Homo sapiens: one gene and its partners. The protein of the gene in region 3 purifies or fractionates together with the protein of the main gene of each other region. This does not show direct contact. Each region holds a gene or a part of one and is shown on either strand. Other genes may lie near its edges.

Region 1 (3,653 bases), on a different chromosome or scaffold from region 3:
CAGACCATATGCAAGTTTATTTAAATAAGTTAACACTGCAGAGTGAGTCAATTTATAAGTATAAAAATAGATGGTTTAGAAACCAAAAATAAGCACCACACAAAAGCAGATTATACATACACCATCAGGCCTTTGGAATATTAAGGCAACATAAATATCTCAAGCAATTTTAGAAGAATGCTTTACTTATATAACAGATGTTATTAAAACATCTCAAAAGAGGCAGGGCTCACAATTTTTTTCAGTATGAGGTCTTCCCTTCCATTTTTGTTAATATATTAATGATTCTTCTTAAATACTGTACCATAATTAGTCTAGATTAACAAATGGGCTATCAAAGCCACTATCTTGTTGGCTAGATAGCGGAACAATTAATTTTCTTGAAGGCTGCTGACACACTGAAGATGGTAATGTACTGCTCAGTTTTTTGAAATCTGACTTTAATCTATCAGCCTTATGACGAGATGGGTGTCCACAATTCACACTGATCTTTCCTGGCTCCAAATACGTGGTTTCTTCTGACAGGTATGGAGTTTGATAACGCTGACATTTCATTGTTTGACAAATCATATTACTTTCCTCTGTATCTGAAAGATAACCGGATGGTGAAAACTGTTTGGATTTAACAGATTCACTTGGTATTTCCAAAGTTCCTTGTGGCCTACCATGTACAAATGATGCTTCACGACTGTCAAAGGATAAGGTTGCACTGCTGGAAGGCCAGCCCAAGCAGTCACTAAGGTCCCCTCCATCTTTTACTGGAGGTTCCTGAACATCCAAACCTTGACTTTTCTCAGATGCAGCATTTTCACTTTCCATTAGTGGATTGCATTTATATACTTTTAAACCAAGTCTTTCATTAGAATCGCGAAAGGTTATATGCATGCATCCTGATTCAGAAGGACCAGGGGTACATCTAGGTGAGGGTTTATTTCCTAAGGTTCCAAGAAAGGGGTATGCAGCTGAATGCGGAAGTGATTCAGAACCATTATCACTGAGTAGGTCTTTCTTCTTGTGCAAACCAAAGCCTCCTTCACCTTCACAAGGAACAAACTCAGGAGAAACATTCCTTGGCAAACTGTTTAGGTGCTTGCAACTACCATCCCCAAACTGGAATTCCAAATGTGTCTCTTTGGATCCCACATGCTTTATGCTCTGATGCTCTGAGTTCTCTAACAGCCTTTGTAAGTTACAAGCTGCCCTCCTCTTGGGAGCTTGTTCGCACAGAGTTCTGGTGATGGTGTTTACACTATTTGATTTGCTTTCAATACAACATGGTATTTTCTGATTCACATCATTTCTTTTTGATTTTTTAACTGCAATCAGCATCTCTGAAGTTAGGGGCAGTGCTATTATGTGCAAGGAAACACGAAATTAAGAGAAAATTAATATTTAAAGGGAAGATTCATCCTTGAACAAAAAAATAAAAAAAATTAAAAATAAGAAAAAATTTATGTTTTTATACTGTATTCCCAAAGAATGCTTATATACTGTAATAATTCTTAAAGAAAATACATCAATGCTGGACATTTAAAAATATTCTTTTACATATATCCACTAGATAAAGCTTGGTAATTTTGTTACTAAGATCTGATATATAATTATTATTGCTATCCATCTGACCTATCATTTTCTGCAATAGATGTTATAGCAATTTCAAGATCCAGCCACAATGTTTTCAATCCTGCCCTGATTCTGATGTTAAGAATGGAGTTTCTGACAAGTTCGCTCAAAGAACCCCACCCACCCAATACCTACACATACACTTCTAGAATAGCTAAATAGACTTTCTGATTTAATTACCTAAGACACTAAATCTGATCAAAGACAAAGCAGCCACATAGCATGAAATTAGAGGCATTGTATCTCAGAGTAGCAAGCCCTAGAGTCCATGAAAAGGATTTGCTTCTCTACTGGGGACATTATTTGCACACTGTTGCCCCAGATCTAGAAAATTATTTTCTTGTTATATGTTACTGCCTTTTCATACCTAAGGTTCACATCACCATTCCAAAATTTATACAAATAATCTTTGGCTTGTACATGAGGAATGTTTACCAACATCAGACTCATGGACCCCTGAACAATCTCAGCTTCAAGTTTTCCAGAGGTTCAAGAACCCCATTTCCCCACTGATATGTTAAAAATCTCTCAGTGTGATTGGGAATTTACCAGTCTTTTTCATGTATTTCTATCAGCTCTTGCTTTATATAAAGCTGTATGATCTACAGAAAGAAAACAATTACAGTTTCTTGGGAGACTATTCCATTATCATTATGAACTATCAGCTTTGTCCCTTTTAATGCTAACTCTAATTTATCTAATCTTTTATTTACCTCTATAATTTATCTAATATCAACACTGCATTTGCTTGGTATATCATTCTCCATCCCCTGATTTTTAATTTTAGATGTTCTTCTTGTAAAAATAGCAAATTTCCACATTTTTAAAAACCCTATTTGAAAGTTGTGGTCTTTTAATAACTTATATGAGTTTAACCTACTTATATTTAGTGTGATTGTTGATGTTTCAAACTACTATTATGTCCTACTTACCCACGCTCTCTAGGTTTTTTTCCTCTTTCCTGATTTTGTTAGATTGAAAATGTTTTTTTCCAAGTTTTTCCTTTACCAGTTTTAAAGTTATACGTTCTATGTTTTTGTTGGTTACTCTTACTTTTTTTTTTTTTTTTTTTTTTTTTTTTGAGACAGGGTCTGCTCTGTTTCCCAGGCTGGAGTGCAGTGGTGCGATCACAGCTCACTGCAGCCTTGACCTCCCGGACTCAAGTGATCCTCCCATCTCAGCCTCCCAAGGCAAGTCGGCTCCCAGTTCCTGCTTGATATGGCTAGCCACCTGGAGCACTGCCCTGCTCCCAGATTCTTTGTTCCTGTTGTTGTTGCCCAGCTCAATATTGAGGTTGGGGAAAGGAGGGGAGAAGAAGAAATAAAGAGAGGATTAACCCCACCTGGTTGCTGTTGGTTTAGAACACCAACTAATTACCCCATTCATATCCCCTAGGCCCTCTATTTCTCCTGGAACATATCACCCTCATATGTGGAACAGTTTTGATATTGCTCCTAATTGCAATAGTCATCTCCCGGTGGTTTTGAACTGAGGTTTCCATCTTCCATCCTATACTGTCTTCTTTCTCTCAGGGATTTCTTGTAGCTTCTGGTCTATCCACTGCAAACTTTTTTTTTTTTTTTTTGAGACAGGGCCTCACTCTGTCACCCAGGCTGGAGTACAGTGGCACAATCATAGCTTACTGCAACCTCAAATTCCTGGGATCAAGGGATCCTCCCACCTCAGCCTCCCAAAGTGCTGGGATTACAGGTGTGAGCCATGATGCCTGGCCCACTGCAACTTTTTAAAACCCACTTATAATTTCTTCTTTTTCTCATTCTTTATTTGCTGTTTAAAATCTTTTCTATCATTTCGAGGGATGGAAGCAGCAATAGGAAACTGATGGGCATGCTCAGTCTGCCTACTTAAATTGGAAACTGTGTACTCTTTTTGCGTAAACTTCTAGTTTAAGTAAAACATACAAAACTTCACAAATTAACTCTCACTCCTTACCTTCCCTGCCTTCTTCATACTGAAAATATTAAATAGCTAAAGAAGAAAAGATAGAAAAACCATTTGGCGACTCACTT
Region 2 (3,653 bases), about 71 Mb from region 3:
ATATATACATATATATATATACACACATAAGTAAAAGCAAGCAAGCTGAAAATAGTATTAAAAAAAACAACATGGCTGGACCAGGGTCACTCCAGAATGGGCAGTGCTGCAGCTCTGCCCCAGTGCTGCTACGAGTACTCTCTTCCACACCTGACCTCTGTCCTTTGCCCTCCACCCTCCCCCTGTGGCATCCACAAACACTCATCTGTCTGACCAGCTCAGATGGAGTGGCAAAGGGAGGGAGAAGACTGGGGCAGCCAGAGAACAGGGTCTCTAGTGGCCCTTCCTCTCTCTGGCATCAATGCTCCACAGACAGCCCTGGTACTCTGGGCCCTGCCTCCTCCACCTCCCAACACTCACCCTCTCTCGAAGTGACCCCTGCTCTAGGTGGGCCAGCAGCGGGCAGCAGCCACAGCAGCAGCACATCCCAGCATGGGCACTGCCCAGCAGCAAGCGACCCTGGCACTGCCTAGTGCTATTGTCCCGGAGGTTGCCTGTGCCCGCCCCAGGGCTCAGGCTTCTGAGGATGGAAGGACATAGGGCCTGCTTACCAGGGGTGCCTGCTCCAGAGGTGGAGTGAGTGGGCTTGTTTGGTTCTTTGTCCTACTCTTTTCCAGGTATTCTTAAGATAATCACATTGGTCTCCCATTTACCCACGCCCAAGTAGGACAGCCCTTTACCTCCAAGACCCAACCTATGCACCAAGAAAAAGGGCCCATTACTCCACAATCCATAACACCCACCCCAGTGCTCAGAGGCCCTTCCTGCTTGGTTCAGTCCTTTGCTCTCCAGCATCTAGATACTTTTTTTTTTCTTTTTTTTTTTGAGACAGGGTCTCACTCTGTTGCCTGGACTGGAGTACATTGGCATGATCATGGCTCACCGCAGCCTTGACCTCCCGGGCTCAAGTGATCCTTCCACCTCAGCCCTCCAAATAGCTGGGACCACAGGCATGCATCATGATGCTCACCTAATTTTTAAATTTTTTTTGTAGAGACAGCGTCTTGCTATGTTGCCCAGGCTGGTCTCGAACTCCTAGGATCAAGTGATCCTCCTGCCCCAGCCTCCCCAAAGTGCTAGAATTATAGGTGTGAGCCACCACGCTCAGACCTAGAGTCATTCTGTCTCTTTCTCACAAATCCCATGGGAAGTTCTTCTTGCTACACACCTTCATCCACACTACTGCTACATCAAGGATAAATAAAGAATATGAAAGCCCTTAGCACAATACCTGGTATACAATAGGCACCCAATACATGTCTCAAAATGAAAGAAAAGGAAGGAAGCAAAGAAGCAAGGAAGGATGTATGGACACCAAGACATGGGGTCTCAGTAGCACCCTGGCCCCTATTCTGGAAACCCTCTTCCTTCCTTATCAGAGCTTTAGAACCTTCTGTCTCTTCTTGTTTCTCTTTTCTCCCTCCTCCTGAAGGGCTCTAAGCCATTCTCTCCTATTTCCTTTGAGTTTAGACCCTGAGGGTTTCCTCTGGAAGTCAGAAGACCAACCCCAAACTTCCTTCCACTGTCATCCCAGATCTCAGTCACTTTTGGGAAAGAAAGACAGGGCCAGGCCGAGCGCAGTGGCTCATGCCTATAATCCTAACACTTTGAGAGGCCGAGGCGGGCAGATCACTTGAGATCAGGAGTTTGAGACCAGCCTGGCCAACATGGCAAAACCCCATCTCTACTAAAAATACAAAAATTGGCCGGGTATGGTGGTGGGCACCTGTAATCCCAACTACTCAGGAGGCTGAGGCAGGAGAATTGCTTGAACGCAGGAGGTGGAGGTTGCAGTGAGCCAAGATCATGCCACTGCACTCCAGCCTGGGTGACAGAGCGAGACTCTGTCTCAAAAAAAAAAAAAGAAAAGAAAAAAGAAAGAAAGATGGGAGCAATGGCAGAGGGCATTGTGGATCTCTACTGAAAAGCTCAAAGGCAAACACAGTCTCCCCTCTTCTCTCCACTTTGTCTCCCAGAATAAGGGATGAGGAAACAGTGACGTACATGGAGGGGAAGGCAATGCCAAGGCTAGGACTTTGGCTTCCTGGGCTCCCAGCAGGCAGCAAGGCCAGGCAGATCCACCCAGGCGAGGTAGAGCTTCTCCAAGCAAGCCCTAAGCTCTCATCTGACTTTTTTTTTTTTAATAATAGATTTTAAAAACTTAATGTTTTTGTAGAGATGAGGTCTCACTATGTTGCCCAGGCTTGTCTCAAATTCCTGAGCTCATGCGATCCAGCTGCCTTGGTCTTCCAAAATGCTAGGATTACAGGTGCGAGCCACTGTGCCCAGCTCTCTCAGCTGCCTTTGCTTCTCTCTCAGGTATGTCCAAATCAAGACTTCTGGGAGAGTCACAGAGTACTCAGAATCACCTCTCCTCCAGCTGTACCTGGCAGCAGCCCCTTCCCCAAGATGGTGACACCTCTGTCCACACCCTCTGTAATAGTGACCGGAGAGCCTGTGGAGCATTCCACCAGGATTCGAGTCACCTGTGGCTCAGCCCCTGTACAGCAGAGGCGCCGTTGGCTATGAAGGGCACTGAGTCCTGGAGGAGGAGCTATAGGGCTGGGAAATGAAGAGGTGAGGGATTGCTGGGGGTGGGACTGAGAAGAGGGCTTGGGGTGGTCTCAGCCGGGCCCTGCTCCTTTATGAGCTTCCAGGGACAAGATGAAGACAGGAGGCAGAGGGGAAGGCAGCCAAGTGGAAACACTAATGCCAAAGCCAGAAACAACACAGAAAGACATCACTGCACACACAAAGGCACTTAATAAATGCTTGCTTAGTGAATGAAGATGAGACACTGGCAATGGGAGTGGGTACGGGTGAAACGGAAGAGGATTGCTAAGGGCCACAAGGAATAAATCAGGTTAGGGACCCTGAGACCCAAGCATCCTGGAACCCAGCCTGCCCCCTACGCGGCCACACCTGTCAGGCCAGGAGAGAGAGACAAGCAGAAAGAGAGGGGGGGTAAGCGATGCAAACAGACAGGCATTTGTGCAAGTGAACAATAGCTGTGCCAGGACTCCCTGCCCTCCTGGCACAAGGCAGGCCGGCTGGGTTGGGAGGGGGGCAGCTGCTGCCTGCAACCCCACCCCCACCCTCTCCCAAAGAGACATAAACAAACCCGGAAGGGTCCAGCCAGCTCCTCTCAGCCTTTTCTCTTACCAGCTTCAGAAATCCTAACCAATCCGCTCACTCAGCTCCTAGATGATATTTCCAACCAGAAACTGAAGCTAAGGATGAAGCTACTTCCTCGTGGCCAGAGAGCACGAACCCCCTACTTTGCTGACCACTGTTCAAAACAGTAGCCCAGAGCATCTGGGTACAGAATAGGAGGGCAGGCAGGCAGACAGACACACTGACACACCAGCACACCAGTAACATGCACACAGGGGATGCACACATTCACATCTGTCCCCTCCTTGATTCCAAGGTCAAATTCCACAGCCAGAGTGGCTAAGATCAGACCCCACTGTAACTCCTCTGGTCGGCCTCAGTAGGTCCTTCTCTAGGCCCCATCTAACCTCCTGCAAGTCACTCAGTGACTTCCCTAAGCTTTAGACTCCCTTCCCCTATCCTCACTTCTCCCCTCCCCCTCAACTCTCTCCCTAACCTCCACGACCCCTAGAATTTTTGTCTATGTCCCCAGAAGCCTC
Region 3 (3,653 bases):
GTGCATGCTAATGCTGGCCCTGTTTGCCCAGGCCTAACTACATATGGTTTTTACATCAACAACATAATCAATACTGAGGAAAAGCATTAAGAATGACTTTTTTAAAAAACTGTTATCAACAATGACAACATTTGGGAGACGAAGTAGAAGGGAAAAGGAAGAAGAGATATAAAGATAAGACAGCCGTAAGAAAGAGAATCTTACAACAAGAGGAAGGATTTGCTGGCCACATCAATTCCTGTTGTCTAGATCTTCGGCCCTGGCAGTCAGTGTATATCCCAATGCTGTTAAAACACAGCAGATATTCTTTACTGGAGATCTCAACTGCGCAGATAGCATCCATTGGTTGATGTGCAATAAATGATAGTGTATGGTCATTTGAATGGAGCATACTGTATGGATTTCCTTCTCCATTCAAGGGGTATCTTAGAAATCCTGACTGGAATCCCACACAGAGTTGTTCACTGAAGATTGCCATCCACTGGACATTATATGGGACTTGAATTTCTTTAAATTTTCTGTGACGGGTCTTGCTCTGAAATAGTTCATAACAGAGGACCTGCCTTTTCATAGCCACACACAGGCATGTGAGAGCTCCATGGCGCACCTTTCCAGAAGTTACGGTTTGACACCCTTTAGTTTCTGACAGCTTGTAAAAATCGGTCTCTCGCCCATCCAATGCTGACATAGGAAAAAGTCGTACATGACGATTTCGTCCTGAGATCACAGCAACAAGCTGATCATTTGGAATGAGTTCAATCTGATGAATCTTCTTATTGTCACCAACTCTAATAATTTCTAAACACAGAAAGAATAATAAATCAAAATATAGTTTTATTGATTAATCATATCCCAATTATACTCAAAAGGATGTAAGTCAACTTACAGATGCACATACGGAAGAATAAGACATCAGAAGTCACAGGAAAAAAAGATTATCCAACCCATCATAAGATAATTTAACTCACCTATAGTACGTATTAAATTTGAGTCCTGAGATTTCTGGCAGCCAAGGCAAACCCCAAAGGATTCTTGTGTAAAAGTATGCCAAATCTTCAAGGAAACTTTTCTACTGGCACTAAATTCTAGGGAACGTCACCATAGGATTCCCATTTTTAAAAACAGAGAACTTATTTTTCAGAAGTTTTTATATGGCTAACAATGCATTGTTTTCCCATGATCTAAGTTGACATAAAGATAAAACTTAGAATACTGTATTTATGAATACCAAGTTATATTGGTTTCTCTTTATTTCACCCAGCATTTAGTTTTTCCCTAGAAGAAAAACCTCCAAACAAACACATTTTAATAGCTGTTGCCTCTTCTGGTACTAATAGAACAATGTGAAAATCAAGTTGTATATATTTTTTTTCATGTTCCATCTTTAGAAATGCAATCTGGGCTGGGCGCAGTGGCTCATGCTTATAATCTCAGCACTTTGGGAGGCCAAGGCGGGTGGATCACCTGAGGTTGGGAGTTCGAGACCAACCTGGCCAACATGGAGAAACCTCATCTCTACTAAAAATACAAAATTAGCCGGGCGTGGTGGTGCATGCCTGTAATCCCAGCTACTGGGAGGCTGAGGCAGGAGAATCTCTTGAACCCAGGAGGCGGAGGCTGCAATGAGCCGAGTTCGTGCCACTGCACTCCAGCCTGGGCAGCAAGAGTGAAACTCTGTCTCCAAAAAAAAAAAAAGAAATGCAATCTGAGTTCGTACAGAACTGTTAAATAAAATGATACAAGAAAGACAATACATATTTGAAGTTTTAAACCTCAGGGGGATTATAGAAATTTAAAAATAATCTTTTAATTTATAAACGTCAAATTAGGTCTGGAAAATTTTAGTCGCAGGATAAATAAGAGCAAATCCTGCTCTTTGTAGAATTTAGAATCTACAGTTTAAATTTTTTTAACACGATTTAAAATTACTCCAAAAAAAAAAAGTTTTCTCTTACCATCTTTGGTGACATGTACAACAAATAACCCTTCTTCGTTTCCCAAAGCAATTCTTTCATGATCTATGTAAGACATGAATGTGAAAGATTTTTATTAGGAAAAAAACCATGTAATGCTAATAAACCAGATGATAAGAACATTTGGTGCAAAAAATGGAAATAAAATGAATTACAATAACAGTTTACACTATTTCCTTTCAGATTATACTGGTAAATCTCTCATGTCTTCTAAAATAGAACAATTATTAAAGAATAATCCATATCAATACTTACAAAAAGAAGTAAATGTTTAATAAATGATGAAACAAAATGAAAAACCTAAGTTGTTCTACACTTATTGTTTTGGGAGGTAAAAATTGTGAATGGCATTTGAACCATACTCATTGAACTTTTCAGTATTTATGGAAAGTAACAAAAGAGTTAGATGCATACACAGGAATACAGCAAAAATTTAAACCTCCAGACACAGAAACTGCCATTTGTTAAGGGGATTTCTTTCTTATGCAGGGCACTCTGTGTTATGTATTCCATCTTATTTAAACTTCCCAATAACCTCAGCAAGGTAATTACCATCTGTATTTTATATATTAAACTCTAAGAAACTAACTTGTTCTAAATCACACAAGCAGAAAATAGATTAGTAGGCTAATGCTTAGCACTGTTGTTTTTTCAGGAAAAAAAAGGCACTTTGAAAGTGTATTTATACTCCTGTTTACTGAAAAACAAAGATCTGATATAGGTCTCATTCATTCAGTAAACATGTACTGAGCATTTATGATATGATGCACAGTATGTTGGACACTGGGGATTCCTAGATGAAAGCCAATCCCTGTTCTCAAGGTAGATTAGTAAACAATGATAATAATATGATAAATGTTATAAATTCATACCTATGATTGCGGCTGCCTGGGTTGTTTTAATGAGGGGTAGAGTGCTGTCATAAGCCTCTTTGGGAACATAGACTGAGCGGTCTCTGAATTTGTTTTTCTTCAAAATCTTGTGCAATTCACTCAGCACTCCCACCCACTTATTCTTCTCATTCTCAGTGTCTGCTAGCATCAGGATTGAACATTTGTTATTAGATGCTGAGAGCTGGGAAGCTGTGACCTAGAACAATTTAATCAATATTCATGATATTAGAAAACAGACACCCTTTATGCTAGTTTCATGATTATGTTAGTTTGCTTAGCACTCACCAATAAAATAAGCATTCATTAAATGATACCATTACTGGAGTTCAGCTATTCCTAATCAGAATAACTACCTTTAGCACTAGAATACATGACAAAGCAAAGGTGGCAGACACCATTTGAAATGTTAGTATCATTTTCATTTTCCTTCTGTAAAAGTGCCAGAACACTATCACTAAAGAGGCATTAAATATATAACAACAACAACAACAACTGACATTTATTGAGTAAATACTGAGCACCAGGTAGATCTAAGCACTTTACAAGTATTAACTCATTTAACTCTGTTAACATCGTCATGATTTAGGATGTACTGTCATTATATCCTTATTTTATATATGAAAAAAATGGTGATGCAAAGAAATTAAATCATTTCTCCAAGGACATACAACTACAAGTCTGGGATCTTGTGCCCATGCTCTTAAGCGCCACACCATACTGACTTGTGACTTGTTTTAAGGTCAGAAGTGCTCAGAAATATATTCTCTGTTACTTCACAACAATAACT

Evidence for each region.
Region 1: the proteins of CDC42BPA (region 3) and CEP152 purify together in Homo sapiens (co-immunoprecipitation; one large-scale study listed by IntAct). This does not show direct contact.
Region 2: the proteins of CDC42BPA (region 3) and ARHGEF2 purify together in Homo sapiens (affinity purification with mass spectrometry, with the first as the bait; one large-scale study listed by BioGRID). This does not show direct contact.

What each region holds. Positions count from the first base shown.
Region 1 is NC_000015.10:48,737,940-48,741,592, forward strand, and holds part of CEP152 (centrosomal protein of 152 kDa), read right to left. Parts: intron 1,350-3,653; coding exon 310-1,349; 3' UTR 1-309. UniProt on the Homo sapiens protein: Necessary for centrosome duplication; the function also seems to involve CEP63, CDK5RAP2 and WDR62 through a stepwise assembled complex at the centrosome that recruits CDK2 required for centriole duplication.
Region 2 is NC_000001.11:155,971,895-155,975,547, forward strand, and holds part of ARHGEF2 (rho guanine nucleotide exchange factor 2), read right to left. Parts: intron 1-3,653. UniProt on the Homo sapiens protein: Activates Rho-GTPases by promoting the exchange of GDP for GTP.
Region 3 is NC_000001.11:227,028,453-227,032,105, forward strand, and holds part of CDC42BPA (serine/threonine-protein kinase MRCK alpha), read right to left. Parts: intron 3,063-3,653; coding exon 2,846-3,062; intron 2,019-2,845; coding exon 1,956-2,018; intron 799-1,955; coding exon 205-798; intron 1-204. UniProt on the Homo sapiens protein: Serine/threonine-protein kinase which is an important downstream effector of CDC42 and plays a role in the regulation of cytoskeleton reorganization and cell migration. Regulates actin cytoskeletal reorganization via phosphorylation of PPP1R12C and MYL9/MLC2.